Regions from separate parts of the Homo sapiens genome. Here region 2 is linked to region 1. The links come from fine-mapping of genetic effects on gene expression. Tissue or cell type: whole blood. Region 1 holds a variant in brackets; the other region holds the start of a gene. All regions are shown on one strand. Distances are between the middles of the regions.

What was found. PIP is the estimated chance that this variant, and not a neighbour inherited with it, causes the effect.
Region 2: HYCC1 starts here. The variant in region 1 is fine-mapped to the expression of HYCC1 in whole blood (INTERVAL, PIP above 0.99).

Annotation. Positions count from the first base shown.
Region 1 is chr7:22,926,642-22,929,141 of GRCh38, reverse strand. It overlaps a transcript of HYCC1 not described here. Among named protein-coding and RNA genes, the nearest start is that of SNORD93, 71 kb to the right of the region's middle. The variant G/A (reference allele first, on the strand shown) is at 1,409.
Region 2 is chr7:23,012,925-23,015,552 of GRCh38, reverse strand. HYCC1 (hyccin PI4KA lipid kinase complex subunit 1) reads left to right here and starts at 1,423. Exons shown (of 11, transcript NM_032581.4): 1 at 1,423-1,628. RefSeq lists enhancers at 1,093-1,272, 1,433-1,622, 2,040-2,628 and a silencer at 1,813-2,082.

The sequences.
Region 1 (2,500 bases):
ACATATGGCTAGCCAGTTTTCCCAGCACCATTTATTAAATAGGGAATCCTTTCCCCATTGCTTGTTTTTGTCAGGTTTGTCAAAGATCAGGTAGTTGTAGATATGTGGCATTATTTCTGAGGGCTCTGTTCTGTTCCATTGGTCTATATCTCTGTTTTGGTACCAGTACCATGCTGTTTTGGTTACTGTAGCCTTGTAGTGTAGTTTGAAGTCAGGTAGCATGATGCCTCCAGCTTTGTTCTTTTGGCTTAGGATTGACTTGGCAATGCGGGCTCTTTTTTGGTTCCCTATGAACTTTAAAGTAGTTTTTTTTTTCCAGTTCTGTGAAGAAAGTCATTGGTAGCTTGATGGGGATGGCATTGAATCTATAAATTACCTTGGGCAGTATGGCCATTTTTATGATACTGATTCTTCCTACCCATGAGCATGGAATGTTCTTCCATTTGTTTGTATCCTCTTTTATTTCGTTGAGCAGTGGTTTGTAGTTCTCCTTGAAGAGGTCCTTCACATCCCTTGTAAGTTGGATTCCTAGGTATTTTATTCTCTTTGAAGCAATTGTGAATGGGAGTTCACTCGTGATTTGGCTCTCTGTTTGTCTGTTATTGGTGTATAAGAATGCTTATGATTTTTTCACATTGATTTTGTATCCTGAGACTTTGCTGAAGTTGCTTATCAGCTTAAGGAGATTTTGGGCTGAGACTATGGGGTTTTCTAGATATACAATCATGTCATCTGCAAACAGGGAAAATTTGACTTCCTCTTTTCCTAATTGAGTGCCCTTTATTTCCTTCTCCTGCCTAATTGCCCTGGCCAGAACTTCCAACACTATGTTGAATAGGAGTGGTGAGAGAGGGCATCCCTGTCTTGTGCCAGTTTTCAAAGGAAATGCTTCCAGTTTTTGTCCATTCAGTATGATATTGGCTGTGGGTTTGTCATAGATAGCTCTTATTATTTTGAGATACATCCCATCAATACCTAATTTATTGAGAGTTTTTAGCATGAAGGGTTGTTGAATTTTGTCAAAGGCCTTTTCTGCATCTATTGAGATAATCATGTGGTTTTTGTCTTTGGTTCTGTTTATATGCTGGATTACGTTTATTGATTTTCGTATATTGAACCAGCCTTGCATCCCAGGGATGAAGCCCACTTGATCATGGTGGATAAGCTTTTTGATGTGTTGCTGGATTCGGTTTGCCAGTATTTTATTGAGGATTTTTGCATCAATGTTCATCAAGGATATTGGTCTAAAATTCTCTTTTTTGGTTGTGTCTCTACCAGGCTTTGGTATCAGGATGATGCTGGCCTCATAAAATGAGTTAGGGAGGATTCTCTCTTTTTCTCTTGATTGGAATAGTTTCAGAAAGAATGGTACCAGCTCCTCCTTGTACCTCTGGTAGAATTCAGCTGT[G/A]AATCCATCTGGTCCTGGACTTTTTTTAGTTGGGAAGCTATTAATTATTGCCTCAATTTCAGAGCCTGCTATTAGTCTATTCAGAAATTCAACTTCTTCCTGGTTTAGTCTTGGGAGAGTGTATGTGTCGAGGAATTTATCCATTTCTTCTAGATCTTCTAGTTTATTTGCGTAGAGGTGTTTATAGTATTCTCTGATGGTAGTTTGCATTTCTGTGGGATTGGTGGTGATATCCCCTTTGTCATTTTTTATTGCGTCTATTTGATTCTTCTCTCTTTTCTTCTTTATTAGTCTTGCTAGCAGTCTATCAATTTTGTTGATCTTTTCAAAAAACCAGCTCCTGGATTCATTGATTTTTTTTGAAGGCTTTTTTGTGTCTCTATTTCCTTCAGTTCTGCTCTGATCTTAGTTATTTCTTGCCTTCTGCTAGCTTTTGAATGTGTTTGCTCTTGCTTCTCTAGTTCTTTTAATTGTGATGTTAGGGTGTCAGTTTTAGATCTTTCCTGCTTTCTCTTGTGGGCATTTAGTGCTATAAATTTCCCTCTACACACTTCTTTGAATGTGTCCCAGAGATTCTGGTATGTTGTATCTTTGTTCTCGTTGGTTTCAAAGAACATCTTTATTTCTGCCTTCATTTCGTTATGTATCCAGTAGTCATTCAGGAGCAGGTTGTTCAGTTTCCATGTAGTTGAGCAGTTTTGAGTGAGTTTCTTAATCCTGAGTTCTAGTTCATTGCACTGTGGTCTGAGAGACAGTTTGTTATAATTTCTGTTCTTTTACATTTGCTGAGGAGTGCTTTACTTCCAACTATGTGGTCAATTTTGGAGTAGGTGTGGTGTGGTGCTGAAAAGAATGTATATTCTGTTGATTTGGGGTGGAGAGTTCTGTAGATGTCTATTAGGTCTGCTTGGTGCAGAGCTGAGTTCAATTCCTGGATATCCTTGTTGACTTTCTGTCTCGTTGATCTGTCTAATGTTGACAGTGGGGTGTTAAAGTCTCCCATTATTATTGTGTGGGAGTCTAAGTCTCTTTGTAGGTCACTCGGGACTTGCTTTATGAATCTGGGTGCTCCTGTATTGGGTGCATATATAT
Region 2 (2,628 bases), 86 kb before region 1:
CTACTATTTTGGACAACACAAATATAGAACATTTTCACCAGTGCAGAAAGCTCTGCTGGACAGTGCTTGTCTGAATATCTTAGTGTAGCTTGTGAGGTCTTTTACAATCTCACCTCAACCTTTTGCTCCAGCCCAATTTTTGGCCGTTCCTCATCATTTAACCCCATCTACCTTCTCAACATTCCACAATGGCTCTGTGCCCTTTCACAGCTCCATGCCTTTGAACATGGTGTTCTCCCTTTCTGAAATACCCTTTGACTTTCTTCTCTGGCAAACTCCCATTTACCTTTTAAGATCCAACTCAAACATTACCTTCCTTGTGGAGTTCGCTGACTTTCCTAAACAGTCATTTCTTGTCCTCTGTTTCCATTGCTCATTGAACCAATCTCTATTGTCCTTATCACTGTAGTTTGTTATTATTTACTCATTAATCTGATCCTCCCTTTGGAGGGGGATCCTATCTGTTTTAGCAATCTGCCCTAATAATTACCTGAAATTGTTTGCTTGATACCCTTTTGATATCAAGTAATATATCTTCTTATTTATGTGCTTGTTATTTATGAGTTCAGCATGTTTGAAAAGTTCACTTAGTGTTTCTGGAGAAATCCTGCCCATTTCTAGTGTAAAGCTAGAATGAACTTCCTGTCTTCTAGGGTGGAGGTCAGTTTTTCTTCTAATTAATCCTGACCAGTCTTGAGAAGGATGTGGTAGGAGAGGTTTACAAGGTCAAAAACAGCAGTACTGTCTGCAGGCGCAGGTTCAGGTGTTCTCGGGTTCCAGTTATTATACAAAACATTTAGTATATGTTCAGAGAAAAAGTAGGGAGGAATGATGGAAAAAATAAAAACAACCCCCATGGAAAGAAAACTGAGGCATCGTATTTGACTTTTTCCAGGCTAAGCCCAAAAGCAATGATGTAGTGAGGGGGAAGTTTGTATTTCCATTTTGCAAAAACGTAATTTTTTTTTCCTCCCGGGATTTGATAAGATTTTGATAAATTCTTGTGAATTTAATTACAGGGAAGTAAATCCTACTGACTAGTAAATTATCAATTTGTTTCTCTTTTCTCACAAAAGAGAAACAAATTGATACCCTTCACATCATCCGGTAAGGTTTATTTTTTTCTGAGAAGGCCATAAGCCCTAACGGCTCAGAATCTAAGAGACCTTCGCTGATTGTCATCGCCTAGCGGCCACCGCAAACCTTACAGTCAATCAACTTCCCTCGGACGCCCGGATCACGCCCATTGCTCAGACCACGCCCACTCAAGGCGCCTCATGGCTCCGCCCCAGGCCCAGCAGAAGAAGATTCTCATTGGTGGAGAAGTTGTTCTGATCCCGCCCCGGAGGACGGCGATAGGCTGAACTGGCGTGGGGCGGTGGTGGTTGGCTGCTTGAGGACGGGTCCCTGGTCGTGCCTGTCAGAGAGGCTGGCGGCAGTGGTGGCTCTCCCGGCTGGGTTGTCAGTCAGTGAGAGGAGGGGGAAGATGGCTCACCGGGACCCGTTCTGCTAGGAAGAAGGGGAGCAGGTGGTGCTGCTACTCGGGAGGAAGCAGAGCAGCCTCCGTCGCTGTCGCTGAGAGCCTCACGAGTCGAGGTCCTGCAGGTGGAGCTCCGGCAGCCGCCCTGGTGAGTCCAGCCGAGAGACCCACGCCGGGCCCCCAGGGCGTCCGGCAACGGATAACTTTTTTTTGTCAGGGAGGAGCCGGGGCGAGGCGGCGGCGAGGACAGGACCGGGACTTTGTCCCTGGGGCCGCGGCTCCACTGGGGGTAACGGCTCCCGCGCGAGGCGCCATGGGTGGGTGCGAGGCGGCGCGGGGCGCTGGGGGCGGCTGGCGGGCGGGTGGGCTGCGGCCGGCGCTGCTCGCCCCGAAGTTGGGCGCAGCCTGCCCGCTGCCTGGAGGGCGGCAGCTTTGTGCGCGCGACTCGGGTCTTTCCTTCCCGGCGAGGAGCAGTCCAGCCTCCTGCTGTGACCCGGGTGCCGCCGCCTCGGCCCCACCGGCCGCCCCTCTGCCGGGTGGGCCTGGGGCGGGAGCCCCCCGTCCCCTCCCTGCCGCGGCGGATGCTCTGGCCTCTGCCTCCTCTCCCACTCGCGCCCTCTACTTCGGCGAGGCCGCCACTGTCCGTCCGGTCTGGTGGCCACAATGGTCACTGTCGACCCCCCGCCCTCGCCCCCTGGAGAGCAGCGTTGGCCCGAGTCGGTCTTTGGTCCCCTGCAGGGCGGAGAGGTTCAGACAGCAGCCACGCTTCCTTCCTTGGTTATTTCGCTGAAGATCTCTTCTTGAGCCCTTGCCCCTTCTTTCTATGAGTTATTCCTCTCCTGAGGCTCATTTTAACATACTCGGGAATCCTCGGGGGTTTGGCTGAAAATGGTTGCATTAAAACACCCCCAAGTTTGTACGCTTCCCCGAAATTTGCTGTCTGCCCGTCAGCTTGCACATGTGTGCTTTGTGAGTTTAGACATTCCTGAAAGATTTTAATTTTGCCTAAGTGGTTTAGTACTGCACAGAATCTGCTCTCTGAGAAATACACTATCACAAGCCTGGCAGCCGCGGCGCTCTTCAGGTAGGGGGAATTTGTTCCACCGGCAGCTACTTCTTATCTCAGAGACTGCCCTACAGGCAGTAGG